4 linked regions of the Homo sapiens genome follow. The protein of the gene in region 2 purifies or fractionates together with the protein of the main gene of each other region. This does not show direct contact. Each region holds a gene or a part of one and is shown on either strand. Other genes may lie near its edges.

What was found.
Region 1: the proteins of RNF126 (region 2) and CAPN15 purify together in Homo sapiens (affinity purification with mass spectrometry; 3 studies listed by BioGRID and IntAct, with this or other methods). This does not show direct contact.
Region 3: the proteins of RNF126 (region 2) and KLHL42 purify together in Homo sapiens (affinity purification with mass spectrometry; 3 studies listed by BioGRID and IntAct, with this or other methods). This does not show direct contact.
Region 4: the proteins of RNF126 (region 2) and BLTP2 purify together in Homo sapiens (affinity purification with mass spectrometry; 3 studies listed by BioGRID and IntAct, with this or other methods). This does not show direct contact.

Annotation. Positions count from the first base shown.
Region 1 is NC_000016.10:530,705-537,721, reverse strand, and holds part of CAPN15 (calpain-15), read right to left. Parts: intron 3,777-7,017; 5' UTR 3,724-3,776; intron 2,407-3,723; exon of another isoform or gene 2,354-2,406; intron 1,694-2,353; 5' UTR 1,580-1,693; intron 1,086-1,579; exon of another isoform or gene 1-1,085.
Region 2 is NC_000019.10:660,214-668,111, forward strand, and holds the start of RNF126 (E3 ubiquitin-protein ligase RNF126), read right to left. Parts: upstream 3,002-7,898; 5' UTR 2,909-3,001; coding exon 2,834-2,908; intron 1-2,833. UniProt on the Homo sapiens protein: E3 ubiquitin-protein ligase that mediates ubiquitination oF target proteins. Depending on the associated E2 ligase, mediates 'Lys-27'-, 'Lys-29'-, 'Lys-48'- and/or 'Lys-63'-linked polyubiquitination of substrates.
Region 3 is NC_000012.12:27,783,227-27,790,243, forward strand, and holds part of KLHL42 (kelch-like protein 42), read left to right. Parts: intron 1-4,812; exon of another isoform or gene 4,813-4,982; intron 4,983-7,017. UniProt on the Homo sapiens protein: Substrate-specific adapter of a BCR (BTB-CUL3-RBX1) E3 ubiquitin-protein ligase complex required for mitotic progression and cytokinesis. The BCR(KLHL42) E3 ubiquitin ligase complex mediates the ubiquitination and subsequent degradation of KATNA1.
Region 4 is NC_000017.11:28,642,144-28,650,005, forward strand, and holds the start of BLTP2 (bridge-like lipid transfer protein family member 2 isoform 1 precursor), read right to left. Parts: upstream 3,016-7,862; 5' UTR 2,914-3,015; coding exon 2,846-2,913; intron 2,045-2,845; coding exon 1,915-2,044; intron 1,517-1,914; coding exon 1,467-1,516; intron 1,169-1,466; coding exon 1,021-1,168; exon of another isoform or gene 959-1,020; intron 845-958; coding exon 726-844; intron 193-725; coding exon 132-192; intron 1-131. Other genes in the region: SDF2 (stromal cell-derived factor 2), read right to left, coding at 6,846-7,133. UniProt on the Homo sapiens protein: Tube-forming lipid transport protein which binds to phosphatidylinositols and affects phosphatidylinositol-4,5-bisphosphate (PtdIns-4,5-P2) distribution.

The sequences.
Region 1 (7,017 bases), on a different chromosome or scaffold from region 2:
AAACGGCCCCTGCGTTCCCCAGCCCAGGCCACGCAGGAGTCCCTCACGGGAGACGGGTTGGGCATTTCCGACACTCCCCTTCTGTAGCCAAACCCTGAGCGGGTCAGGGCGGGGCAGGGCTTGGGTGGGAGCGGCGACTAGCGGAGGTGCCACGGGACAGAAGCTGCTTGCACTGGGCCCTGAGCTGGTTTGGCTCTGACAGGAGCCCTGCCCGTTCTGTGTGAGGACTGCACACCTGCCAGGGCCAACCTCAGCTCCTTCGCCACTCACCCACCCACGCACTCACCCACGTGGCACCTGGGGTCACGCGTGCCGCTAGAAACACAGGCTCCTACCAGGCCCCGCCTGCTCCTCACTGATGCCTTTAGGCCCAAGGCAGAAGTGGTGCCCAGCTGCACCCAGGGCAGGAAGCGAGCTGCTCACCAGCCTCCTGCTCCCCTGCGCTCACTCAGAAAACCTTTCTTGAGCTGGAGCCAGTCTCAGGCAACTGACCCTGTGGGCCCCATCTGGACAGGAGGGAGGCCTGTCCTAGGAGAGCAGGGACAGCACAGTCCCCTCCCGTGGGTGCTCGGAAGAGAAGAGAGGACCCTGCAGAGAAAAGCAAACGTCCCTGTCACAGAGGCTGGACAGCTGGCTCTGTTAAGCCCTCTCCGGGGTTTTTCCAGCACACGCCAGGGGATCTCCAGAGATGGTATCGCTGAACCGCCCCGATCCGCTGCCAGAGGAGTCAAGAGCCCCGTGAGGGGTGCCGGGGGCCCTGCCCTGGCTGGCGAGGCCCACTAAGGAGCAAGAGCTCCCGGGACACAGCTGCCAGCCACGTGCCAACCTGAGGGTCCCATCGCAAGGGTGACTGTGGGAAACTGGCACCGATGCTCTTCCCGAAATCCACCCTGCTGGCCTTCCCGAGTGCAGCTGTGGGTCCTGGGTCCCCCTGTGTTCCGTCCACTCATGATGGACAGATGCTAGTACAGGATGAGCAGCTACGGAAAAGGCTCCCAGGCCAGGTGCAGTGGCTCACGCCTGTAATCCCAGCACTGTGGGAGGCCGAGGTGGGTGGATCACGAGGTCAGGAGTTCAAGACTAGCCTGCGCAAGATGGAGAAACCCTGTTTCTACTAAAAACACACAAAAAATTAGCTGGGCGTGGTGGCGGGCGCCTGTAATCCCAGCTACTTGGGAGGCTGAGGCAGGAGAATGGCCTGAATCCGGGAGGCGGAGGTTGCAGTGAGCCGAGACCGCGCCACTGCACTCCAGCCGGGGCGACAGAGCGAGACTCCGTCTCAAAAAAAAAAAAAATAGGCTCCCAGCCCGCGTTCCCCTAGAGGGAGGGAACTGCATTTAGGAGGAAGACTCCGATGGGAGGGCCCCAGGAAAGAGGAGCAAGAAGTGGTGGGAAGGAGGGAGGGCAGCACCAGCAGCCACCCCCAGGGACAGCGCCCAGCCAGGGCTGACTGCATCTCGGCCGTGGGTGCTGGCTCCGGCCAGACCTCGGCAGGGGGGTTATCATGTCCAGGGCCACTGAGGACAGCAGGGACAGGGCCTGCTGCGGCCAGCCAGAGGCTCTTGGGAGGAACGCTCACCTGCCACTCCCAGGTCCGGCCCACCTCAGGGCCTGGGCACACGTGAATCACCCAGTGCAGTGGCCCCGAGGACGCAGGTCAGGTCAGTCCGTGGTTCCCATCCTGGCTCCCTGTCTGAATAACCGGGGGGGGGGGGGGGCGTGCAGGGGCACTGTCACCAAGGAGTGTGCCCAGGCCAGGCCGAGGGACAGCAGGGTGAGGCCCCCGCAGAGCATGCCGAACTCTGACCCCTGACCCCAGGGACATGCCCTGGGCCGCTGCTGCTCCTGTAGGGCCTGCCGCCGGCCAAGCATCTGTGCTGCTCCCGTGAGCTGCATGTGCCCCCCGGGCCTCTGCTGTGGGCCAGGCTGTTTCAGGTGCTCGCGAATGGGAACCAGCAGGAGCCGTGACCACAGGGCTGACTCTCAGGGCGGCGCCTCAAGAGTGGCCGTGACTCATGACTGCCACAGAGCCAGGCTGCAGCCACGCCCGCCTCTGGGCTCCCTGGAGGGGCAGGGTGCGGAGGGCCCCGGGCTGTGTGGATCCATGCCTGACCCCCACAAGTCCAACTGTGCAGCTCCCCGCCCTCCCTGGGAGCCGATGCCCTAGTTTTAAACGGGGCGGTGGCCTAGATCCAGCCTCAGAGAATTGCAGAGGTGAGGCCGCCACTGCCCTGTGGGGACAAGTGGTTAATGAGCAGGGCCAACTGGCCGGTCCCTGTCCTGTATGCCACACACACACCCCGTGAGGGCAGCAAGGAGCATCCAGCCAGGGGACGTGCACGAGAAGGGCCAGGATGATCACACTGCCCGGGGCTCAGCACAGGGCTGAGTCCCGGAGGTGACCATTGCCGCCCCGCTCCATCTGCGGCCACTGAGGTCTGCTGGGGGTCTCTGGTGCTGGCCTTGACAGCCCACCCGTGGCAGGACAGGGTCTCGAGGTGCCTCTCGGTAGGTGGTGGGCTCAGTGGGGGTGACCCGTGGGGACGGAACGCATGCTCCTGAGGCTCCAGTGGATGCAGGCAAAGGCACCTCCCGGGGTCAGCGTCCCTACCTGGGGAGCTGGGAGCCCACATGGGAGCAGGGCTGGCACAGCGACCCCCAGCCTTGCGCGGGCGGCACCCACAGCTGTGTCCACTCCGCATACACTCCTCACTGTCTCGCTAACTAATCATGTACACGGCTGTACCCCCGAGCCCTCCCCTGCCCCGCAGGTGACACAGGCGTGTCCCACTCACACAGCACCTGCTCCTGGGCCCTACATCTCCGTCAATCTTTCACAGAGCCATCTTGCCACCATGGGAACCACAGCGACCCCAACAAGGATGCCCCGGTGTCACCCCTGCCCGAGCTGGGGGTGTGGGGGGCAGCAGATGGAAAGCGGGGGCCCCTGTGTCCAGGCAGCTGGTGGCCTGGCCTTGCCCCACGGCAACCCCACTGCGCCCTAAAACTGCACCCACCAGACCAGAGGCTGCTGGTCCAGGCAGGAAACAAGAGCCAGCCACTACCGGGACGAAGCTCAGTCGGTGCCCACAACCTGAAGACAGGCAACTCTGCCTTTGTCCCCACTGACGCTAAGGCCCCTGTGGAGGAGATGACCCCAAGGACAGGAAGCTCCTGCATGAGTCGGGTGGGAGGGCTGAGGACAGGGCTTCCCATCGTCCCTACAAGAAACAAGGCCAGGGCCCCGCCCTGGGGGAGGACGTGGACTCCGACCGCCCGCCCCAAATGACAACTGGCAGGACAGCATTCTCCAGAAACAGGTGCAGGCCGCTCCCCAGGGACCAGGCACCCTCCTGGCTGAGGATAGCGGTGGGGGCCGTGCACAGGCTCCTCACCAGCCCCAGCCCCAGCGCTGCCGTGGGGATGGGGAGCTCCATCTGGGGGCCGGGGCCACAGCACAGGGGAGGTCCCCAAAGGGACAAACACCCCTGTCGGGACCCCGGGCCGCCCTCACCGTCGCCTCCCACGACAGGACCACGGCCCAAACGGCTGGGAGAACGAGGCTCTTCAGGGCAGGCAGGGCTGCCGGCCTCCAGGGGTTCTGTGAATCAAGGGCTCCGAGAGGCCCCCCAGCCGTGGGCACTCCAACCCTGCTGCTCCACAAACAGTTCTGCAGCGCAAGCAAACCCATAAACGAGCCGCAGGGCTTGGGAACAAACTCACCTGAAGCTGCAGCAAGCTCCCAGGCCCTCTCTGTGCCGCGTCTGGGCTGCTGCCTAGAAAGGGAGGCATTTAATCAGGCACCTCAGCTTCCACCAGGAGGACTCTGACCCTGGAACACAGAGCCCCGCCTCCAGCCCTCTCTGCAGGAGCCAGAGTCCCGGGAAATCAGCCCCGGGAGACCCTTCGCCTTAGAAGCTGTCCGAGCTTCTGTCCTTGGGTGTCTGTCCGAGCGCCAAAGGCAGCCCGGGGAGCAGCAGGGGCTCAGCAGGCTCCTCACTACCCTGGTTTAAGGCCCTTGACCTGTCCAGTGCGGTCAACCTCCGGCCAGCCAGGACCGCAGACAGGGCCATTCAAGATCCTGTCCGGACCTCCCACGGCCCGACCCTGCTACAAGGAGCAGGCCGTGGGCAAGAGTCCATGAGCGGGGCTGCAGAGCAGCACCAGCCAGGGAGGGCGGCCGAGCTTCCCAGGCACTGCCAGGGAAAGGTGCCCAGCTTGGGCAGGCACAGGCACACAGCCAGGTGGCCACCTAGACTCCCCCGGACCCCAGCCCGAGTGCCACCCGGCCACTACAGCTGTCAGCAGGGCGGCCACTGCTTCGAGCCAGGCGGCTTTGCTTCTCTAAGGTCATGCTCTCCATGGCGGACCCACTGCGGTGGGCAGGATGCTCACGCTTCCCGCCCTGTCCTTCCTGGGCCCTGTGTAGGGCCCACCATGGACTCCTCACTCAGCCATCACCCTCTTTTTTGTTGGTTTTAAATTTTTTATTTTATTTTTTGAGATAGAGCCTCGCTCTGTCACCCAGGCTGGGGTGCAGTGGTGCAATCTCAGCTCACTGCAGCCTCCGCCTCCCAGGTTCAAGCTATTCTCCTGCCTCAGCCTCCCAAGTAGCTCGGATTACAGGCGCCCGCCACCGTGCCCAGCTAATTTTTGTATTTTTAGTAAAGACGAGGTTTCACCATGTTGGTCAGGCTGGTCTCGAACTCCAGACCTCAGGTGATCCACCCGCCTCGGCCTCCCCCAGTGCTGGGATTCCAGGCATGAGCCACCATGCCCGGCCCCTCACCCTCTTTTGTGATCAGCATGAGGATGGTGTGCAGGTGTGTCCAGTGGCACAGGCATCACCTGTTTTTTTTTTTTTTTTCTCTGACAGAGTCTCGCTCTGTTGCCCAGGCTGGAGTGCAGTGGTGTGATCTCGGCTCACTGCAAGCTCCACCTCCTGGGTTCACGCCATTCTCCTGCCTCAGCCTCCCGAGTAGCTGGGACTACAGGCGCCTGCCACCAGGCCCGGCTAATTTTTTTGTATTTTTAGCAGAGATGGAGTTTCACCGTGTTAGCCAGGATGGTCTCAATCTCCTGACCTCAGGTGATCCACCCGCCTTGACCTCCCAAAGTGCTGGGATTACAGGCGTGAGCCACAGCGGCTGGCTTTTTTTTTTTTTTTGAGACAGGGTATCACTCTGTCACCTAGGCTGGAGTGCAGTGGTGCCATCTCGACTCACTGCAACCTCTGCCTCCCGGGTTCAAGCAATTCTAGTGTCTCAGCCTCCCAAACATCTGGGATTACAGGCACACACCACCACGCCCAGCTAATTTTTGTATTTTTAGTAGAGATGGGGGTTTCGTCACGTTGGCCATGCTGGTCTCTACCTCCTGACCTCATGTGATTCACCCACCTTGGCCTTCCAAAGTGCTAGGATTACACGCATGAGCCACTGAGCCCAACCGAATTCTACTTTTTTTTCTTTTTTTTTTTTTTGAGACGGAGTATAGCTCTGTCGCCTAGGCTGGAGTGCAGTGGTGCCATCCCGGCTAACTGCAACCTCCGCCTCCCAGGTTCAAGCAATTCTACAGTCTCAGCCTCCTGAGTATCTGGGATTACAGGCACACACCACCACACCCAGCTAATTTTTTTATTTTTAGTAGAGATGGGGTTTCGCCATTTTGGTCAGGCTGGTCTCGAACTCCTGACCTCAGGCAACCCACCTGCCTCGGCCTCTGAAAGGGCTGGGATTACAGGTGTCAGCCACCGCACCCAGCCCCGACTTCTATTTTTAACAGGAAAAAAGGACCAGACAAGCACTCGTGGTTTTTGGCACTTCTCTACTTCTCTGCTTGCCATGTGGTGGCAGAAGCAGCCCTGGTCTGGGCAGCCCGGTGACCTCACTGGTGGCCAAGCAGAAGCCTCTGGGACACAGGGGGCACCTGTCACCCCAGAGAAGGGGACGGGGGCCTTGGGAGCCGTGTGGCCCTGGGCACCTGTCATCCCAGAGAAGGAGACGGAGGCCTTGGGAGCCGTGTGGCCCTGGGGGCACCTGTCACCCCAGAGAGGGAGACGGAGGCCTTGGGAGCCGTGTGGCCCTGGGGGCACCTGTCACCCCAGAGAAGGAGACGGGGGCCTTGGGAGCCGTGTGGCCCTAACCCAGAGGAGGCCTCGTGGCACCTCTTTCCCCATCAGCTCCAGCCTCTCTGCAGCCACCTTTTCAGGAGGGGCAGGAACTCCAGAAAGCTCCAAAACTTATTGCCTTTCTCATTACAGGGGACAGGGAGGTGGGGGGTAGGGAGTGGGGATCAGGCAGGGGCAGAAGGTGTAAGAGGTTCAACCTGCCTGGGGGACTTCACTTACAAAGGGCAGAGGCTGGGTGTGGTGGCGCCCACCTGTAGTCCCAGTATTTGGGAGGCTGAGGCAGGAAGATCACTTGAGCCCAGGAGTTTGAGGCTGCAGCGAGCTATGATTGCAACTGCACTCCAGCGTGGGCAACAGAGCACGACCCTGGCTCAAAAAAATAAAACTTAAAAAATGTTAAAATAAAGGGCAACTTTTTGAAGAGAAGTGAGGGGAAGGCCATGAGGAGGAACTCCCTCATTAGCGGAGCAAGCTCCTTCCACAGAGGAGCAGACGCTGCAGTCACTGTGACATTTAAAAAGCAGCGATGGCCCTGCGTCCTCCTGACATCCCGTCTAGGACCGCCAGGGAGGCGGGGATGGCAACCCTTGAAGCTTCCCTTTGACCTCAGGGAATCTGACAAATCGTTGTATCTGGAGGCCAGGATGGCGAGGCTGATGCCCATGACCCGACGGGACTCATGGGTCCACCCTGGTGCCCTGGATGAGTTCTGGGGAGGGCGGCCACACTGCTGGCTTCCCATGCAGCACTCAGGCAGGCCCCTCAGAGTGTGCAAAGCAACAGCCTGACGCAGCTCATCTTGGGGGGCCCACGGGGTCCCTGCCCTGGGCTAGGATGCCCCCATCCTCCCACAGACCCCATTCCGTGCACCCTGTGGGCCCAGCAGC
Region 2 (7,898 bases):
AGATGCCACGGGGAGCGAATCGCATCACTAAACCCACTTGGCAGGTGAGGAGACTGAGGCCAAGGCTGCCCAGCAGAGAATGACCCAGCTGCGCGGGGCCTCAGCCTGATCCCAGAGCCCAGGACAGCAAAGGAGGCCCGGAACGGCCCAGCTGCCTGGGAGAAGCCCTCGTGGGCAGGCACACAGCCCATGGCAGCCAGTCCCCCCTGCGTCAGAGGCAGGCAGGAGCTTCCCGACAGCCAGCCCAGGTGTCTCAGCAGCAGCAGTGCCGCCCCTGACTCAGCCGCCGGGCAAGCTCCCCAGCGGCAGAGACGCCCCGTTTCGAGGGCACTGGTTGTGGCTGGGGACTTTCCCCATTGCCAGATACGGAGCAGCCGTCCCTCCCCAGAACAAACGCCAGGTGTGCCCATTTCCCAGCATAAAAAATTCGTTTTTGAGACAGCGTCTTGCTTGTCACCCAGGCTGGAGTGCACTGGCACCATCACGGCTCACCGCAGCCTCCACCTCCCAGGCTCAAGCGCTCCTCCCACCACCTCAGCCCCCGCCAGTAGCTGGGACTCCAGGAGTGCAACAACACACCCCACTAATTGTTTTAGTCTTCTGTAGAGACAGGGTCCTGCCACGTACGGAGAAGTTCTGACACTGCCATGCTGTCTACGGGCGCCTTGTTGCGTCCTGCTCCAAAGGCACAAGCAGATGCCCTTGGGATCACCCGCGGGGTGGACACGGGCAGGCCCCCGCAGCCCTCTCTGCAGTTATTTGCTCTTAAGGAATCTACCAACGTCCATGATTAAATATTTGTCAATCACTGTTCCATGCTGGCTCCCTGGCCAGCCTGTAAATTCTGTGAGGGCAAAGACCACAGCGGCCTGTCACCACAGAGTTCCTTTCACTACAGGAAGGCCCTCCCCAGGCCCAGTGACAGTCGGAGGAGGTCAAGGTCCTCCGTGTCCAAGGCCACGGGGCGAGGAAGTGGCTCCACCACACCAGGATCCAGTCCTGTGCGGGCTCTAGGAGCAGCTAAATGTGCAGCCGAGTCAAGGCAGTGTCGGCCCCCCACAGCCACCACTCCAGGCTTCCCAGGGGCTTCCCAGGCCTGTCCCAGGGCTCAAGGGGCTGCAAGGGGCTGCCCTGCAACTCACCCAGGCTGGCGGGCTGTCAGGCAACCAGCCTCTCCTGCCACGGCCAGTGGGGACAGAAAGCTGGAAGAGGCAAGAGCGAGACCCCTGGGAGACAGAGGAGTAAGGCAAGGCTCAGTCTCAGCTCCCCAACCTTCGCCCCACACCCGAGATTTCACTTTATTTGTTCCTCCTGCTGGGGAGGGGAAGCCCTGTGGCTTCAGTAGAGAGGAAACCACACCTCTCTCTTTCCACTCCTGGGCCTGGCCCCGCTCTCCCGCCATGCCCCAACTCTAGCACTCGCTCCTCCTCTGTGACCCAGAGACAGGCGGCTTCTCCTGACTCCCTCCAGCCCCTTCCTGGGTCTCTACTCCCGGGGAACTGCACTGCTTCTGGGGGGCTTGGACTTCTCTTACGGGTCAAAGCGTAGCAACAGCCGGGCGGCTACGTACACAGCACAGTAAATCCTCAATGCCTGCAGCCTCTTCCCCTGGGCACAGGGTGGGGAGTCCAGACCCCTCCACCTCCTGCGGCTGCTCCCCTCAAGCTGGCCAAGCGGCTCCCGACTGAGCCGGCTCTGCCACTTTCCCGCTGAGCCACCACGCGCCTCAGTTTCCCCATCTATAAAGCACGGGTGGCTCGACTAAATCACCACTTTGCACGTCAGCCTGGCGAAGGGCAACACGGGTTAAAAATGCAGACCACCGCCGGGCACGGTGGCTCACACCTGTAATCCCAGCGTTTTGGGAGGCTGAGCCAGAAGAATCGCTTGAGCCCAGGAGTTCAAGACCAGCCTGGGCAACACAGGGAGACCCCATTCCTAAAAATAATATTAGAAATGCAGACTGCTGAGCGCATTCCACACCTACTGACTCCGAAACCCTGGAAAAGGGGCCTGGAAATAGCACCTTCAACGAGCGCTGCTCCCACCTCCCCCAAGGTGACATCAGGTCCGCGTGGGAAACACTGCCCTAAACGAGCAGGAAGTAGCACTCGGCACGCCCAGGCCCAGGGTCCTCTTCGGTGAGGGGCGGCTGTAAACACCTGGAGGAAGGGTGGGCTGCGCAGCCAAGCCCCGGGAGGGGAGGAACGCAGGCTCTGCTCACAAAGCCCCGCCGGCGGGCCGCGGTCGGACCCCGGGACAGTGCCTGGGGCGTTCCGGGCCTGGGCCTGCCTCCAAGGCGGCGGCCAGGGCTCCACGAGGCGAGCCTGCAGCGAGGCGCCGGCGCCCCCAACCACGCGCTCGGCGGGGGTCCCCTGGCGTTATTCTCGGGGTCCGAGCCCCGCCAGGCCCAGCCCCTGCCCCGCGCCGCGCCACCGGGCAATACCCTCTCTCTGCTCGCCGGGCCTCAGTTTCTCCGTTTGCAAAACCAGGCTCACCGGGCTTAGGGATCCCACCTGGGATCCTCGCGGCCTCTCGGGTCGGGAACGCCGCGGATGTGGGGTCACCCGGCCGCGATCCCGCTGCGCCGCTCCGGCCAGGCCCTGCCTCCCGCCCGGGCCTCAGTCTCCCGCATGTACAGGACGGGGTTCGCGCGCGCACCGCCCGGGCTCCCCGCGGATTCAGCCTGGGCCGGCGCTGCCCCGAGCCTCAGTTTTCCCGTCGTGGTCAGCTCGCGCAAGAGGCGGGCGCAAGCGACCCCCACCCCGGCCCCGGCCTTGCCTCAGGCCTGCGGCGCAGACCCTGCCGCCCGCCGCCCCGGCCCGGGCCTCACCGGCAGGCGCGGGACGATCTCCACGGAGCAGCAGTGGCAGAAGTACCGTCCGGGATGCGGCGACGCCTCGGCCATGGCCGCCGCCACCTACTCCGCGCCGCCCGCCCCCCGCGCGGCACCCGCCGCCGGCCGTTTGCTGCTCCCTCGCCGGCCGACGCGCCCGCGCACGCTCACGCACGGCACGCACGGCACGCGGGGCGGAGCGGGGGCGCGGGAGCGGCGAAAGCTGCGTACTCGGCGGGCAGCGGCCCGGGCGACGGTGGCCGCTGAGAGACAAACTAGGCCCGGCCGTTGGGCGGGGCTCCAAGCGGGGGCGGGGCTTCCGGCGGGGGCGGGGCCAAAGCAGGCGGCGGAAGAGACGAGAAGCGGGGCGTGCGCGGGGCGGGGCCGAGGCCCTCCTCCCCTCCCGAAGCTGCCCAGGCCTTCGTGTCCCTCAGTGCTTCCCTACCTCATCGCCGTCTCCCCTCACGGTACTTCAGCCCACTGTCCCCACCGTTCCTGGGGCTCGCCAGGCGCCCTCTCCCCCGCCCGCTGCCCGGTGCAGCGCTCTCCCGACGCCCGCGTGGCTTTCTTCCAGGTCTTTGCTCAAATGTCAGCTTACAAGGTCTTCTCTGCTGCCCTCCTGCTCCGTGGCACTGATTCCCTCCCGATGCACTGTCAGGTCAGCTGCGCAGCAAAGGGATTTTTGGACCCGCAGCAGCGCCTGACACACAGCAGGCATTCCCTCAGCGCTGCGGAATACAGGCAGACCCGGGGCTCAGGGCGCTGTCTGGGCCTCACTGGGACCCGTGGGGTCAGACAGAGGCTGAGGTCTGTGGGTTGTGGCCTTGTTTCCAAGATGCTCCACGGGCTGACGGCCCAGGCGCCTCTCGGGTGCGGAGAAGGCAGGAAACCTAACCCCTGCTTCCAAATTTAATCAGTAGAAACGGTATCATCACCCAGCACAGGCCAGGATCATTTCTGAGGTTAGTTCTGGCCCAATCATGCATGCATTTCTTTTTTCTTTTTTTTTTTGAGACGGAGTCTCACTCTGTCACCCAGGCTGGGGTGCAATGGCCCGATCTCGGCTCACTGCAACCTCCGCCTGCCGAGGGTTCAAGCGATTCTCCCGCCTCAGCCTCTCGAGTAGCTAGGACTAGAGGCACCCGCCACCACACCGGCTAATTTTTGTATTTTTAGTAGAAACGGGGTTTCACTATATTTGGCCAGGCTGGTCTTGAACTCCTGACCTCGTGATCCGCCCGCCTCGGCCTCCCAAAGTGCTGGGATTACAGGCATGAGCCACCGCGCCCGGCCTCATGCGTGTATTTCTTTCTTCACTCAACACTCATTGAGCAACTACTGCACACCAGACCCTATGCTGAATGCACGCAGATACCCCCAGTCCCATGAGATTGGACAGGAGCGTGGAACTCAAGGGTGACTCTGGCTCTGCCTGGGGAAAGAGAGAGAGGGCTTCCGAGGGGTAAGGACATTGGAACCAGGGCTGAGGGATGAATAGGATTTGGTTGGAGTTGGACTTCCTGCAAAATGAGGCATTGGAGCGAGACTGTTGAGGAATTAAGAGTTGGAGCCTGTGCATTTAGATTTTTTGTTTGTTTGTTTGTTTTTTAGAGATGGAGTCTGGCTCTGTTGCCCAGGCTGCAGTGCAATGGCGCAATCTCGGTTCACTGTAACCTCCGCCTCCCGGGTTCAAGTGATTCTCCTGCCTCAGGCTCCCGAGTTGCTGGGATTACAGGCTGGGCACCACCACGCCCGCCTAATTTTTGTATTTTTAGTAGACGGGGTTTCACTATGTTGGCCAGGCTGGTCTCAAACTCCTGACCTCAGGTGATCCGCCCGCCTCGGCCTGCCATAGTGCTGGGATTACAGGCGTAAGCCACCGCGCCCGGCCTGCATTTAGGGTTTTGAATGTCCAGAGGTTGGGGACAGGGGCTTCAGCCTCCTTCCAGTCGTCTTTGCAGCAGCGCGAATCCAGTCATTCCTGCTCTGACCACCAGAGAGCGCACGGGCCCCGTCCCTGGGAATCCAGGAAAACCCCAGGCTGGGGAGGGGCGAGGCTTGCCAGACGCAGCCCCTGCACCAGCCTTCACGCTCCGCAAGTGCAGGAGGAGCAGCAGGCCTGGTTCAAACGACGCCAAACCACGAACTGGCTGTGTGTCCCTAGGCAAGTGGCCTAACCTCTGAGAAGGCGGCAGAACCTGACGGTTTTCCGTTGGCTCGGAGCAGACATGAGGACCGCTGGCACCTCCTCAGCCCTCTCTGTGCTCTGCTGCCTGCCCCGAGTCACCTGCCCCTCGCTGACCCCTCCCCAGCCTCACTGGCCCCCTTGGGTGGGCTAAGCAGGTTCCCACCTCTGGGCCTTGCAAGGCTGTGCCCTTCCCCAAGTCCCCTCTCCTTCCCCTGCTTTTTTTTTTTTTTTTTTTTTTTTTTGAGATGGAGTCTCACTCTGTTGCCCAGGCTGGAGTGCAATGGTGCGATCTCAGCTCACTGCAACCTCCGCCTCCAGGGGTCAAGCGATTCTCCTGCCTCAGCCTCCCGAGTAGCTGGGATCACAGGCATGCGCCACCACGCCCGGCTAATTTTTGTATTTTTAGTAGAGCTGGGGTTTCGCCATGTTGGCCAGGCTGGTCTCGAACTCCTGACCTCAGGTGATCCGCCCACCTCGGCGTCCCAAAGTGCTGGGATGACAGGCGTGAGCCACCGCGCCCGGCCCTTTCCCCTGGTTTTTAGGAGGCTGCCCCATCCACCACTGCACCCCACTTCTCAGAGCCCCCTTTCCATCCCCCACAGCCATCCTCACATCTGTGGGTTATTAATGGCGTCTCCCCATATGTGAGGCCAATACCCAGCGCACCAGTAGGTGTTCAGTAGATTCCCAAATGCACCAACAGTTGCCGAGTGTCTACTGTGTGCTGGGCTCAAGCAGGTGCTGGAAACACAGTGGGAATGAGAAGGAACGTAGGGATTTTGTATCAAACTAAGCAGGGCGAGGTGGCTCACGCCTGAGACCAGGAGTTCAAAACCATCCTGAGCAACATAGTGAGACCCTGTCTCTACAAAAATAGAATTAGGCCGGGGACAGTGGCTCATGCCTGTAATCCCAGCACCTTGAGAGGCTGAGGCAGGAGGATCACTTGAGTCCAGGAGTTGAAGACCAGCCTGGGCTACATGGTGAAACCGTGTCTCTACTAAAAATACAAAAATTAGCCAGGTGTGGTGGCGGGCACCTGTGATCCCACCTACTCAGGAGGCTGAGACAGAAGGATCACTTGAGCAGGAGGCAGAGGTTGCAGTGAGCTGAGATCGGACCACTGCACTCCAGCCTGGGCCACAGATGGAGACCCCATCTTTTTTGTTTTGTTTTGTTTTGTTTTGTTTTGTTTGAGATGGGTCTCCCTCTGCCGCCCAGGCTGGAGTGCAGTGGCATGATCTGGGCTCACTGCAAATTCTGCCTCCTAGGATCAAGCGATTATCCTGGCTCAGCCTCCCAAGTAGCTGGGATTACAGGCATGTGCCACCACGCCCGGCTAATTTTTGTCCTTCTAGTAGAGACGGAGTTTCTCCATGTTAAGTAGGCTGGTCTCCAACTCCTGACCTCAGGTGATCCGCCCACCTCAGCCTCCCAAAGTGCTGGGATCACAGGCGTGAGGCTAATCGTTTTAAATTTTTATTTTGTAGAGATAGGATCTGGCTATGTTGCCCAGAGTGATCTCCAACTCCTGGGCTCACGGGATCCTCCCACCTTGGCCTCCCAAAGTGTGGGGATCACAGGTGTGAGCCAGAGTGCCCGGCCACCCCTTTATCCCAAACACACCAAAAAGCAGGCTGCTCTTCCCTGAAGGCAGTAGCACATTGATCAAATCGGCCAGTGGGCACTGACACTGCTGCACACAAATGCACACACTTGCACCCTGCCCCAGGCCCCACCGGCCACCCTGGTTCCACAGACGGCACCGTTTCTCCCATTTCCTCTCACCAGGGACCTCGACAGGTGTGGGCTTGGTTCCGTGAGCTCTCTTAGCCCCTTTTTCAATTCAGGATCCCGTCCCCGTGAACCCTGGGGGCCTCGGCAAACATGAGACGAGAGGACTCCTAAAGGAATGACACGCGCCACTCCCTCCGGGGCAGAGAGGTGTGTTGACAGCTCATTCTCACGTCCCAGGCAGACCAAGCCCAGGTGGACCACGTCCCAGGCAGACCAAGCCCAGGTGGACCACGTCCCAGGCAGACCAAGCCCAGGCGGACCACGTCCCAGGCGGACCACGTCCCAGGCGGACCACGTCCCAGGCGGACCAAGCCCAGGCGGACCACGTCCCAGGCGGACCACGTCCCAGGCGGACCAAGCCCAGGTGGACCACGTCCCAGGCGGACCACGTCCCAGGCGGACCAAGCCCAGGTGGACCACGTCCCAGGCGGACCATGTCCCAGGCAGACCACGTCCCAGGCAGACCAAGCCCAGGCGGACCACGTCCCAGGCAGACCACGTCCCAGGCGGACCAAGCCCAGGTGGACCACGTCCCAGGCAGACCAAGCCCAGGCAGACCACGTCCCAGGTAGACCTAGTGGTTGTGTATTCACTTCTCCCAACCCCCCTGGGAAGAAATAACTGCAGCTGGCCCCATTGCACCAATGAGGAAACTGAGGCCCAGGGAGGAAGCCGATTGCCTGAGGCGGCAGCTTTGGGACTGGACTGTGGCTGCCTCCTGAGGAAGGAAACAGTTCCTCCCTCCACCCTCATCCTGGCAGGGGTTGGGCCACCGTTGCTTCATCAAGTGTCGTGGAGCCTCCGCTCTGTGCCAGGAGCGGGGCCTGTGCCACAAACGTCTGCTGAAACCAGCCATCCACCCAACAGTATCGAGCACCATGATCGGAAGAGTAAAGGCCCCAAACTGGGCCAGGGGCGGTGGCTCATTCCCGTAATCCCAGCACTTTGGAAGGCTGAGGCGGGTGGATCATTTGAGGTCAGGAGTTCGAGGCTAGTCTGGCCAAAATGGTGAAACCCATCTCTACTAACAAAAAAAAAAAAAAAAAAAAAAAAATGGCCGGGTGCAGTGGCTCATGC
Region 3 (7,017 bases), on a different chromosome or scaffold from region 2:
TCATCCTTATCATCTTGACGCTGAGTAGGCTGAGGAGGAAAAGGAGGTAGAGGAAGGGTTGGTTTTGCAGTCTCGGGGTGGCAGAGGCAGAAGAAAATCTGAATGTAAGTGGACCCTCACAGTTCAAACCCGTGTTATTAAAGGATCAGCTGTATAAGTATATTGATAGTGGTTAACAATAGGGGAAAAGTGTTTATGTATATTAATGTGCACGGGGGTGTATCACCTTACACATTTTAAAAATTCTGAAATTGTCTAGGTTGTACTAATTATTATGGCACTTGATATTTCCATTTAACCATATCTGAGAGTTTTTTTTCTGTGTCAACAAATGTAGATCTACCTTATGCTTTTTTATTTTTTTATTTTTTTTGAGACGGAGTCTCGCTCTGTCGCCCAGGCTGGAGTGCAGTGGCGGGATCTCGGCTCACTGCAAGCTCCGCCTCCCGGGTTCACGCCATTCTCCTGCCTCAGCCTCCCGAGGAGCTGGGACTACAGGCGCCCGCTACCACACCCGGCTAATTTTTTTTTGTATTTTTAGTAGAGACGGGGTTTCACTGTGTTAGACAGGATGGTCTCGATCTCCTGACCTCGTGATCCGCCCGCCTCAGCCTCCCAAAGTGCTGGGATTACAGGCGTGAGCCACCGCGCCCGGCCTTACCTCACGCTTTTTAATGGCTGCGTGGCATTCCAGCCTATGGATGTACCATAATGTAATTAGCCCTTCCCTTATTTATGGACATTTAGGTCACTTCCATTTGCATTGGATGTTTCAATAAGCACTGCCATTGAACATCCTGGTAGATGCGTGCATGTATCTTAGTAGCCATATGTGAGTTAGTTTCATATGTCAAATTCGTGGAATCCCTGGATAGGTAGGGCAAAGTGTATGTGTTTTTTTTTTTTGTTTTTGTTTTTTTTTTTTGGGGACGGAGTCTCGTTCTGTTGCCCAGGCTGGAGTACAGTGACGCGATCTCGGCTCACTGCAAGCTCCGCCTCCCAGGTTACGCCATTCTCCTGCCTCAGTTTCCCGAGTAGCTGGGACTACAGGTGCCCGCCACCACGCCTGGCTAATTTTTTTTTTTTTTGTATTTTTAGTAGAGAAGGGGTTTCACCTTGTTAGCCAGCATGGTCTCGATCTCCTGACCTCGTGATCCGCCCACCTAGGCTTCCCAAAGTGCTGGGATTAAGTTGTGAGCCACCGCGCCCAGCTGTGTATGCATGTTTTAAATTTTGTTGAAGCTGGGTGCAATGGTTCACGCTTGTAGTCCCAGCTACTTGGGAGGCTTAGGCAGGAGGATCACTTGAGCCCAGGAACTGAAGGCTGCAGTGCACTCTCATCGGGCCCGTGAATAGCCATTGCACTCCAGCCTGAGCAACATAGTGAGACCTCATCTCTATAAACAGTTAAAAATAAATAAATAAATAGATTTTGGTTGCTCCCGCCAAATTGCCCATCAAAAAAATTGTTCTGATTTCCTCTTCCATCAAAAGTGTTTGTGCTTGCCAGTTCCCTATACTCTTGCCAAGATAGAATATTATCATCTTTTTTTCCCCAAACCTAATGGGCAAAAACACTAGTGTGATTTTTCCCAATTAGAAGAGAGATTATTCTTTTTATATGTTGGTTGGCCATTTGTATTTCTTTTGTAAATGGTCTTTGCCAGTTTCCTAAAAATTGGCTTATTTTCTTCACATTCATTTGAGAAGTTCTATGTGTGAATACAGATATTAATCTCTTGTCTGTTATGTAATGTCGTGCATGTTTTCCCATGCTGTTATTTTTTCTGCAGTGTTCAAAAATAAGATCCCAAAGTGACTGGGTAGGTGAAATTGTTGCATAGAGGGGTGGGTGGGAGTTATGATGAAGCTGAGAGCTATCGCCCCACCAAAAGAGGGCTCCACCTCTCAACCATGGCTGGTTACTTCTACGGGGAAGGGAGGAAATGTTGCCAGACATCCAAATATCCCTTTATTTTTTCTTTTTTAAAGAAATGGGGTCTTGCTTTGTCACCCAGGCTGGAGTACAGTGGTGTGATCATAACTTACTGCAGCCTTCAACTCTTGGGCTCAAGCAATCCTCCTGCTTCAGCCTCCCCAGTAGCTGGGACTACAGGCATGCAACACCATGCTTGGTTAATTTTTTAAAATTAAAATTTTTTCTTTTGTAGAAATGGGGGCTATGTTACCCAGGCTGGTCTTGAACTCCTGGCCTCAGGTAATCCTCCCACTGTGGCCTCCCAAAGTGCTAAGATTACATGCCACCATGCCTGACCCTCCATTATATCTTCTAATTGATTATTGATGCTGTATTGGAAATTGTACCCTTCTTTAGTTCCCTCTGCTTTGACTCAGGTATGACATATCTCCTAGGAGTTCCTTCCCGAACTCTGGCTTGGGCTGAGTGTTCCGTGTCTGCTCCTCTAGCATCTCATGCACATTCCCCGACTTGAATTGAAATTCTCTGTTGTTGTCTCTCTGCCTTCCGATCAGGAACTAGGACTTACTCAATGCTTATGTATAGCCCTACTCCTAACAAGATGTCCAATAATAATAGGTGCTTAAAATACGTGTTTTCTTTAAAAAAAACTATGGAATATATTTTTACATTATTGTAATAAAAGTTAATGTATAATTTTATATTTCGCTTTATTTGTAACACTATAGTGAACATTTTTACCTTGGTAACAGTCATTATATTTATTTAGAGTAGCTGAGAAATAATGAGAGACATCATTTAATTGAACACTTAACTCTGCAGTAGGTACTGTTCCCGCTGCTTTGCATGAATTATCTAACTTATTCTTCACAAGGGCTGTTAGGCAGGTTCCCATTCTAAAGAGACAGAAAGTGAGGCACAGAGAAGTAAATTGCTCAAGGATGTGTAATAAGTACAGCAACCAAAATGTAAATATCCATTGAGTAGTTATAACCACTTAAATTGTTTATAAGTTTTGGATTTTAGACTTGCAGGGACCATCTTCATGCACATTTCCCCCCTTCTTTAAAAAAAATTATTTCCTTCTAAAAAATAGAGCACAGATCTTTTGTGGTACAGTGCTACTTTTCAAAATTTCATCATGTGTGCCTCAGCTCCACGACAGCCTTTAAGCCCAGCATTCTTCTAGTCACTGTTGGATGTACAGAAACTGATGACGTAATTGCTGCCCTCAAGAAGTTTAAAATTGAGTTTAGGTGATGAGACAAGTAAAAATGAAACCTAGCACAGAGTTTTTCCTGGATGAGGCATCCAATACAGGTTATGCATGCACTGGAAGAAATTTGGAACCTTGAGAAAGAAAACCAGATTTTGGCCTCTGGCTATGCAGAATTTCACATCTACTTTGATTCACCTTTGTCGGAGACTGCTTTGGGATGTATCAGTATTTTACTTTGATAAAGGGGTCAAATGTAGAGCAGTTCACTTTTCCCAGGGACTGAATAGTGCAGTGATCCAGAATCTTAAATAGCAGGAACTCTGGGATTGAAAGAGTTTTTTTTTTTTTTTTTTTTTGAGACAGAGTCTCGCTCTGTCGCCCAGGCTGGAGTGCAGTGGCCCAATCTTGGCTCACTGCAAGCTCCGCGTCCCGTGTTAACGCTATTCTCCTGCCTCAGCCTCCCGAGTAGCTAGGACTACAGGTGCCCGCCACCATGCCTGGCTAATTTTTTTTTGTATTTTTAGTAGAGATGGGGTTTCACTGTGTTAGCCAGGATGGTCTCGATCTCCTGACCTCGTGATCTGCCTGCCTTGGCCTCCCAAAGTGCTGGGATTATAGACATGAGCCACCGCGCCCGGCCAATTGAGAGATTTTATAAAGCCTTCTGCACTCTGGAGAAGATAGTGGGTGCTATATGACCATCAGAGGGTAAAAAAGAAATGTTTTGCTCTGTAGGCCAAGTGTGCAACACTGCCTGATGGTCTGAACGTGGGTTTGATCTCACAAATTGTCAGGATGTAACTCTTCACACATAAAAGCTTGTGAGACCTCTAGGCACGGCGGCTCACACCTGTAATCCCAGCACTTTGGGAGGCTGAGGCAGGCGGATCACCTGAGGTCAGAGGTTCGAGACCAGCCTGGCCAACGTGGTGAAACCCTGTCTCTACTAATAATACAAAAATTAGCTGGGCATGGTGGTGGGCACCTGTAGTCCTAGCTACTTGAGAGGCCGAGGCAGGAAAATCGCTTGAAACCGGGATGGGGAGGTTGCGGTGAGCCAAGATCAGACCACTGCACTCCAGCCTGGGCAACAGAGTGAGACTTTGTCTCAAAAAAAAAAAAAAAAAAAGCTTGTGAGATCGAGGGTGCTTGCTTTCCCTTTAATCAGTGATAACTTGCAGGAACTGACCACTGTTGCAGCAGTTGGTTCATTAAGGTTCTCCATTTCCAGAGCTTTCTCTAGTCTTTTCCATTGCCCTGCACTTTAGCTCTGAAAATGGAGTTGGAGTGAGTCCTCCTGTTCCATGTGTGAATACAGCAAGGCTGAGAGAGAGACTTTAATAAACAAGTGTCTCCTGGCAGAGATGGAATTGCAGTTGTCAGCCTTAGCGTTTGCTGAGCTGTCCCTTCTCCTCTCAGCCAATGTTTACCATTTTTGGAGCATTTCTGTGGTTGATGTTGTAGTAGAGCCTGGGAATAGTGCAAGAAAGAAAACTGTACGTCTATTCACACTCCCCCCCAACTCCCCATTTAATTTTGGCCAACAGTTTAAATTGCTTTTTGCATCTTTGCTTTTGGAGTTTCTTAGAGCTGGGCATAGGTTGCAACAATGACTACCTCTATTTTCTAACCTTTCCCCTTCTCCCCTTCCTAGTCCCTAGGGGAAGTTAATGCGTAGGGACATGGCAGAAGGCAAGTAGATGAAGGGGAAAGAGGAGACAAAAGGACCTGGATGGCCCACAGACTTAAGCAGTCGTGTTCTGAGTGGTTGAGAAAGGACTTTTGAAAGGATCTTGGCATTTTGTTCTAATTTTTACTCTGATGGTAAGCAAACTTCTTTCTCTACATAGGGGGTCATAATGATGGTTTTCATTTCTTGAGCTCTTACTCTGGGTCAGGTATTGTAGTCACAACTTGAGGTGTCACTTCATATTAATGCTCACAACATCTCTGTGAGGTAGATGTTATTAATCCCATTTCCTTAAAGTGGAAACTGAGGCTCAGTGAGTTTAATTACCTTCCACATAATCACAGGGCTAGACTCGAAGCCACCCAGACCTCTGTGTCATCTTGCCTTCCTATGGTTGTATGTAGCTACTGTTAATCCTTGAGATCTGCGTGCTGGTGTTAAGCATGTTTCATGTTACTTAGCTTTTAGGGGTTTAAAGAGCTTTTTAAGCCACGCACGGTGGCCTAGCTACTTGGGAGGCTGAGTCAGGAGGATTGCTTGAGGCTGGGAGTTCAAGGCTGCAGTGAGCCATGATCAGGCCACTGCATTCCAGCCTGGGCAATGAAACGAGACCCTGTCTCTTAAAAAGCTCTCCTTTTAAAAAAAATTTTTCTTATAAGTGACCTTGAAATTCAATTGTGGTTTTATCCAATTTTCTCACTTAAAACAGAAATTCTAATGATAATATTTTTATTTATTGCAAGGAACAAGTATATAGCTATGATAGATGACTTGTTACTTGGTCTTGAAATTCTTCTTTTTACCTCGTGAACATAGTGTGTTAAATTAAGAAAACACTGTAGAGATGATAATTTTGAAAAGTAGTTGATAGCTTGAATTTATACCTTTACCATTCAGGAGGTGAAGAGTGGAAGAATTATTTTCAGAAAGTTGGAAATGAAGCAGTAAGTGATGAGAATTTGTGGATGAGAGAGCACAAAACATCACAGTCAGTGACTGTTGCAGTTGACAAATGAGAAACCAACGCTCCCAAGGTTAAGAAAAACTTAGACTTAGGACACCCAGAGAAGCACTCCCTAGAATGCCAATGGAGAAAGACTTATCTCTGCAAGTGCTGTCCTTTTCAGCTCTTACTGCATGCCAGATATTGTGCCCTTCTTATCCCTACTTAACAGATGAGAAAACTGAGGAACAGATCAACAGATTCAGTAATTTGTCTAAGGTCAGACAGCAATTGATGTGTGATGTCTGAGACTTCCCTGTGTAAGCCTGGACTCATAACCTTTAGCAGTATGCCTCTTTATTAAATGGTCTGTTTTTAGGTGGCAATTTCATCTTAAAACAAATTCAGCATTAAAAAGTGTTTCTCTTCAAGTGAATTTGAGCGTGTTGGGGTCTGGAGAGATGGAATCATTTACTTTAACTGCCTATTCATTGGTCTCAAAAAGAAGCCCCTTACATGTTTGCTTAGGACAAATGATTATGCTGGATAAATACTAAAAACTGTTTTGATCTTACAAAATTTACTATCTGTGTACCTTTGGGGAGCAAAAACAAATTGCGGCTGGGAAAATTTAGTGCTTGTTTACAAGCTTTATTTCCTTTGGTTCCCCAAATTTGCACACACAGAGAGGGCATCATGGTTGGATTTTAAGGACCATTGGCAGCAAGAAAGGTAAGCAGCAGGAATCAGGGACCCCCCAGTACCTGCCACCCTGACGTCTGTTGGCACAAAAAAGTGGGCTGGCTGGCTGGCTGGCTGGCTTTAAGGGACAAGACGAGGCTCTTGATGAAGAGTACTCTATTCACGCTCTGATTGGAAAAACAAACTAAAACACATTTAGATATAAACATGATAGGAACCTTTAAAAAATCTTAACTGTTTAGTAGGTGCCTATTACTAACCTAGTTTCCATAGTGTAATGCATCAGTTTTATTGAACACTTTTTAGGGGATCAAGCATGGGCTTCTTGTTTACTGCTTCTTCTTAATCTACTCCCTTATATAAGTTTTTTGTGTGTGCATAGCCTCTACCTCCATTCTTTCTTAGTATATTATTATTTTTGAAGACATCATTGTGTTGGGGTTGGATGTGGTCTTGAAATTCACTTGGTCTAGCACCTTTATTTCAAACACTAGAAAACAGAAATTTGAATGATAGTATTTTAT
Region 4 (7,862 bases), on a different chromosome or scaffold from region 2:
TGATCTGGAACACTGGGTACTGACTTGAGGGAACCCCCTAAGGTCAAAGAACCTAGGATGTAAGCCCTAAGCTCCTTCACACTTTACGCCCAGGAGGAAATGAGGCATCTGAATGATCATGGCATACTTACCAGCTGACCACTCTTTAGAACTTTGCTGTTGATCTTACATAAGCTCACCTCACAGATTAGCCTGGGAAAGGAAAAAAATTAAGAGCACTTGGCCTTGCCGGGCGCGGTGGCTCACGCCTGTAACCCCAGCACTTTGGGAGGCCAAGGTGGGAGGATCATGAGGTCAGGAGATCAAGACCATCCTGACTAACACGGTGAAACCTCATCTCTACTAAAAATACAAAAAATTAGCCAGGCGCGGTGGCGGCCGCCTGTAGTCCCAGCTACTCGGGAGGCTGAGGCAGGAGAATGGTCTGAACCCAGGAGGCGGAGCTTGCAGTGAGCCAAGACCGCACCACTGCACTCCAGCCTAGGCAACAGAGCAAGACTCTGTCTCAAAAAAAAAATTTAAAAAAAAGAGAACTTGGTCCCTTTCCTCACCACTTACCTCCAGTCAAGCTCTGGTGGCTAGAAGGGACAAGGCAATTGGAAATGTCTAATCTTAGCATCTCCTCCAACTGCACAGAATGAGAACTTAACACCTTGATAAGGAGGCCCTGAAGCAACTCTGAGGCAAGAATAGGACGGCTAGATCCTCTGCTCCCCAGTGCTTACCTTTTCCCATCACTATCCAAAAGAAATCTGCTTCTACTGATCTGAATATGCCATAAGGACTCAGAGGTATCCACCTTGAGAACCATGATGTTTATAGCATCTACATGAATGGAGAATAGCTGGAAGGAAGAAGCAAGGATGAACAATAATTAATGTTAAGGAACTGCCCTTCCTTTCCAGATGAGAAAGAGGGGCAGCTCTTAGCATTATGCCCTAAAAACAGAAAAATCTACCCATAACTCCAAAGCCAACCATGCCAAAGTACAGTCCAGGATAGCAGGAGAAGTTGTCTCACTTGGCAGAAGATCTTCAATAAGGATGGGCTGAAGGACAGTTCCTTTTGATCCACCCCAGCGCTCTGGGAGAATGGGGCAGACAGGTCAGAAACTTTCTGTAGGTCCGTTCTGATACGCACTTCTCCAAAGCACAATGCCACATAGTGTCTGCCCAGAAGAGAAATCTCACTGCCACCAGGTCCATCCCTCCCATAGCAGTCTATTCCCCACCCTCACATTCACTTTCTCATCCTTCCTAGAAATATAGCTCAAATCACAGAGATTAGTTTCATAGCAGTTATCAATATCTTCCTCACAACACAATGGCACCCAGGCTAACAGGAAGACTTCAGCAACAACCTCCCTTCCTCCTTGGATTGTGATGCCTCTGCAGAAGAGTGTCACTCTGCAAACACCAACTCCAAAGTACTCTTCTAGGGGAGAAGTGAGAATATAGGGTACTCACGGAAGATCATGGCTAAGGAGTTTGCTGGAAATCCACAGGTTATCAATTTCCTAAAACAGTGAGGGAGAAAGCTCTGTGTGCTAGCTGCTAAATAAGCCACGAGCAGCTTGACAAGCCAGGAAATGTTCTGGATTATTAGAATTTCTCTTTCATAGCCATGTTGCCTTGAATCCCATCTTAAATTAGAACAGTAAAATCTTCGATTTCCTGTTATCTTTCTTCTGTATCTTTGTTATGTGCCCTGGACACTCTGTGTCCTACAAACATTTTTAACTGAACAACTTGCAGCGTTCTCCAACTAGCTCTAAGATCATCTTGGCAAAGAAATGGCAAGGCTGGGATTAACTAGAAAAGCCACCAGGATTTCTATTTTTAAAAAAAGGAAATTAAGAGTTTAAATTCAATTGGATCAACCCTACACACATATCCAGAGTTTCCCAGAACTCACCACTGTTTGCTGGTGTTGCTGAAACTTAAGACTGACATTCTGGATCCAAAAAAAGCGGAAGGAGCCAATCTTTAGCTCCGCCTGCAGCTTCCGCTGACACCACTTGGTGGCCAACCGGACCACAAGCCACCTGCAGAAAAATTCCTGTTAATTCATAGGACCTTTTTCCAATGATGGTTTCCCTCACCCCTTGCTGGTCTTTCAAAGCCTTGCAAAAGGTCGTTCCTGAAACTGGATCTGAGCAACTCTCCTTTCTTCCAAAGCACCACTCTGTCATATACATTCAGCCACGCTGATCAAGATCCTAGCTCCCGACTGACCCCTCCACCCAGATGAAACCAGAAACTGCACCCTCTAAGTTGAAGACAAAAACAAAATCCCTCAAATTGTTATGAATCCCAGAGGCAGAGAGAGAAGACCCCAGCAAGAGTCAAAGCGGAGGCGGCTCTGTCACATGTGCCATCACACTCCCCAGAGGGTCTGTCTGTCTCCTGCTCCCACCCTCCAGACAGGTATCCACGAGAAGGCACTTTGAGGTCAGACCCGGCAGCTCGAATGCTGTTCTCCCCAGACCGATGCTGCAGGTGCCCATCGCGCTTGGCGAAAGGGACATGCAGGGGTGGGTGGAGGGGGAAAGGGAAGCCACTGAACCAGGCCCCTTCCTCACACTCCTATTCAGTTCCTGGCCTCAGCATTTCCTCAGACCCCGCCCGCTTCCTCAGTCTCCCCAACTCGCAGCCCATCCCTGGGAGCTCGGGCCACGCGCCTCCTCACGATCCCTCCCCTCGCCGCGCGCCCCCTCCCTCCACCCTACCCACTCTGCCTCACGCGCCTCAGTAAGGCGCGCGCCCCCTCCTCAGTCTTTCTTCCTCCTCTCCGCCCCCTCCCTCCCGCCGCCGCCGCCGCCGCCGGCGCGGCCGGGAACCCTCACCGGCCTAGAAAGAGGGCGCTAAGCGCAACTAGCAGCAAGACCAACAGCGCGGAGAAGAACAGAGGCATTTAGGTCCGGGTCCGGCCCGGCTTGGCCCCGGCCCCCGCCATGCCGGGCCCCGACGCCGGATCCGCGCAGCACCGCCGCGGGCCGACCAGCTGCGCGCGCAGGAGCAACGCTGAGCGAGGACGCGCTGGTGCGCACACGAGCCCCGCCTTCCGCAGCCCGCCAGCCAACCAACGGCCTCCCACCCCAGTCCCGCCCTGTCCTACGACGCTGCAGGGCCGACGGGCTGCGTGCGCGAGGAGCGGGCGTGGTTCCGGGAGGAGGGCGAGGGGGAGCGGACCAAGAGCTGAAACACGCCCCGGGCGCACACCACGGTGCCCGGAACCGCGGGGCTCGGGGACCCGCGGGGGTCGGAGTCCGGGCCCACTACCTGGGCTGGCGGTGGACCTGGCTGACTCATTTCGGTCCGGGGAGCTCACTTTGAGGGGAGTTGGAGTCCGCCTAGCCACTTAGGCCTGGACTCAGGGTTCTGCGGAAGTTACACCCCTGGTCAGACGTGGTAGCACTCCCATCTTATTCAAGATCCTGTTTGAAAATTACTGAGGCAGAAACTAGGAGGTAATTAAAAGGCCTCAAAAATCTCGCCTCATTCCATCCACAGAGGAAACTAATGAGGTTTTGTTTTTTTTTTCTTTGAGACAAGGACTCGCTACGTTGCCCAGTCTGGTCTCGAACTCCTGCAGGCTCAAGGGATCCTCCTGCCTCAGCCTCCTGAGTAGCTTGGACTAAAGACGCGTGTCACGGTTCCTGGCCAATGAGTTTTTACTTCATTTACTGTTTGAACACTGTTCTGGTCCATCTACTTATGGCACGAACTGGGCCCTGATGGAGGAGAGGAGGAGATACTGCAGAAGTAGTGAATATTGTTCTTGCCCTTTAGCAAAAAATAGTTTATCTGGGAAGCAAACATAATTACATAAAGTAGACAATACATAGTCAGTTTTGCCTGCTTCCTTCTGTGTAGTTTATCTGGGAAGCAAACATAATTACATAAAATAGACAATACATAGTTTTGCCTGCTTCCTTCTCTGTAAAATGAGAGAACAGGACAAAGGTCCCTCAGCGTTACTGTGCTAAGGATCAGTATCTGAATGATGATCTACTGATACAGCACAAGCTAAGGAAATCCTGACGGTTTCAAAATAAGTATTATGGAGGAGGTCATGTCTCTTTTCATACCCCTTCGCTCCCACGTCCTAATCTCCATATATATCCTTCAAGATTTTACTCAGAGCCTCTCTTTTTGGCTCCCTCAGATAAAACACCATTTCATCTTTCACCTGTGTGTTGCCCGAAGTTGCTTTCACTCCTCTGATTGTTTCCTCCCTTATCTATTCCTCTCTTCAGTGATTTCACATCTCCCCAAGAGCTCCAGCGCTGCTGTTTCAAGGTCATACTTACCTCTCAAGCACTGTATTTGCGTCATCTTCCTCGTCATCTGCAGCCTTCCCCCAGGGTATGTCCTCCGAATGCTCTGGGAAGGCCCAATTCACTGAAAACCTCTGTCCAAGTCAAGGAGGGGTGCCGTGCAACACGTATCCCTACTCTGGTTCATCTTATCCAATCTGTTTATTGAACCAAGATTCCTGTCACTTCCTTCCTTCTCCCTTGACTATTACCGGCCCTACTCCCAGCCATCTCATAGCCTAAAATGTTGATTTTATGATTTGTCTATTTCTTTCTGGAGAGATCTTAAGGGATCAACACAAGTGAAGTGGAATAAAGGCAGGGAGTCGGGGGTGGGGGGTGGTTGAGGCAACAGTGGGGCTCAACTAATTCATGGCCTCCATTTATTGAGACCACAAGCCCTTGTAAAAGAGACCAAGTCTTTTAACGTCACGGGCCATGTTTGGCACAGAAATGGTGTCTCTAAATGTTCAACATTAACAAAACAAATAGAAAAAAAAAGAACAAAACCCGGAAGTTTCTAAAAATAAAAAAAGCCTGCTAGTCACTGAAATTCCAGCAGATGGCAGCCATCTCCGTTCACCAATACCATGATTGGAAGCTACAGGAGCAAATTTTCTGCAATTGACACAGGAAAGGAGGAAATCAGGTAGGCAGAGGACAAAAGTAGTTTTCTATCCACCTTTTTAGAGAGATATATCTACGTTTGTCCAAAAAACAGGATTTGTTTTCCAAAAGCTAAACACAATCGTAGTGCACTTAAAAAAACCTGAGTCAGAAACAGCTGGATTCCTATTCCAAAATGATTTATTAGTTTTAAGAATTCAGGCCGGGCACGGTGGCTCACACCTGTTTTCCCAGCACTTTGGGAGGCCAAGGTGGGCGGATCACAAAAGGTCAGGAGTTCAAGACCAGCCTGGCCAATATGGTGAAACCCCATCTCTACTAAAAATACAAAAATTAGTCAGGTGTGGTGGCGGGTGCCTGTAGTCCCAGCTACTCAGGAGGCTGAGGCAGGGGAATCACTTGAACCTGGGAGGCGGAGGTTGCAGTGAGCCGAGATTGCACCACTGCACTCCAGTCTGGGCGACAGAGTGAGACTCCATCTTAAAAAAAAAAAAAAAAGAATTCAGGCAGTAGGCCAGGCATGGTGGCTCACTCCTGTAATCCCCAGCACTTTGGGAAGACACAGCATAAGGATCACTTGAGCCCAGGAGTTCCAGACCAGCCTGGGTAACATAGTGAGACCTCATCTCTACGATAAATCAAAAACTGACACAGGAGGATCAACTTGAGCCCAGGAGGTCAAGGCTGTAATAAGCCATGATTGTGCCCCTCCCACCTAGGTGACAGAGCAAAGAACTTGTCTCAAAAAAAAAAAAAAAAAAGAATTCAGGCAGTTACTCAACTGCTGCACTGATAAAAATGCAGTATTACCCTATATGAATTCTGTGAAGATTAAATGAGGTAAGATCTATAGGCCGGGTGCGGTGGCTCACGCCTGTAATCTCAGCACTTTGGGAGGCTGAGGCGGGCGGATCATGAGGTCAGGAGATCGAGACCATCCTAGTTAATACAGTGAAACCCTGTCTCTACTAAAAATACAAAAAAATTACCCTGGCGTGGTGGCGGGTGCCTGTAGCACCGGCTACTTGGGAGGCTGAGGCAGGAGGATGGTTGTGAACCCAGGAGGTGGAACTTGCAGTGAGCCGAGATCGCGCCACTGCACTCCAGCCTGGGCGACAGACCGAGACTCTGTCTAAAAAACAATAAATAAAAAAAAAGATCTATAATATGGTACCTAGTATTTAGCAGTGAATAAATACTGGTTCGTTCTTTCTACCCCTACACCTTTTTCTCATCTGCAGTAACAGATACAAAGCAAACATTTCACTGGCTATTTATTATGCTGTATTCTCTGAGAGTTTTTAGCTATAATTAGTCAAAGATCTATTAAAGATGAGATGCCTGGAGAGAAGTCAAAGTAGAGGGAGAAAAGGTTTGTATGCAAGAAAAGCTCTTAAAAGGGCCCACATTGGAGCTTCATAGCGTCTCCAAAGAGTCTTAGGACTCAAAGGATTAAGCAGCTAATGAAATAGCACACCTAATAAATAACAACACAGTGACTCATAATAAAATTATTGTTTTTATCATTTTGGAGAGAGAAAATAGGGGGAAAATCACATACATTAACAGTCCATGATGCCAAGCTCCTGAAGAGTAAAAGTTTCCCAGCTAAGAGGGATGTTTCCCTCAGTTTGTTTTATCAGTACTAATAAAAAGCATCTGCCCCTTTACCAGCAAGTCCTCTACTCAGAAAGAACTGACCCACGCAAGTCTGGGAGAGTGACTAGTTCAAATGTGCAGGGCTGAAGCTTCCAAACACAGCCACTATTTTCTGTTGTATATCTTCATCTCAATGGTGACATGGCCACTGCCCAAGGAACTTGTGGCAGGGATCCCAAGGTGAGGCAGCAACAGATGTCTGTGAACATTGTGCGTTAACAGTGGCTCAGAGCCTCTAGATTCACAGCTCTGCATGGTGGGCTTCTGCCTTCAACAACTCACTGGGCTTCATGAAGATGCCTTCCATGGCTTTCCAGTAGTTGTTCTGACTTGGCTGGGCCATGCCATGCACCTCTTTTTGCCCACTGATAGGTCGACCATATTGTTCTCCTGTGACAGACAGCAGTACCTCAGTGGAAGAGTGTTTGAACCGCACCTCACCATCTCTCACCCAGTAGGGTCCATTACAGAGCACTGTCCAGTCATCCAGATAATCACCTTCACCTTCCTCACCAAAAGCACTCACTTCCTAGAAAATACAGAAGGTAGTAACATCAGCATGGCTGACAAGGGCTTGAAAAGGGGTGGGAGGCAATGGGAAGAAAAAGAAGGCCACCTTGAAGTAAAAAATCAGAGGGGCCAGGCTTATGCCTGTAATCCTACCACTTTGGGAAGCTGAGCAGGGCAGATCACTTGAGCCCAAGAGTTTGAGACCAGCCTGGGCAACATGGTGAAACGCTATCCCTAAAAAAAATACAAAAGAAATTAGCTGAGGTCAGGAGTTCAAGACCAGCCTGACCGACATGGAGAAACCCTGTCTCTACTAAAAATACAAAATTAGCTGGGTGTGGTGGCACATGCCTGTAATCCCAGCTACTCGGGAGGCTGAGGCAGGAGAATCGCTTGAACCCGGGAGGCGGAGGTTGCGGTGAGCCGAGATCACACCATTGCACTCCAGCCTGGGCAACAAGAGCAAAACTCTGTCTCAAAAAAAAAAAAAGAAAAAAAAAAAAGAAATTAGCTGGGCATGGTGGCACATGCCTATGGTACCCAGCTACTACAGCTATCACCTAAGTCCAGGGGATCAAGGCTGCAATGAGCTGTGATCATACCACTGCACTCCAGCTTGGATTACAGAGCAAGACCCCATCTCAAAAAAAAAAAAAAAATTCAGCTGCTTTCCAGTGTTGTTATTTTATTTATTTATTTATTTATTTATTTTGAGACAGAGTATCGCTCTTGTTGCCCAGGCTGGAGT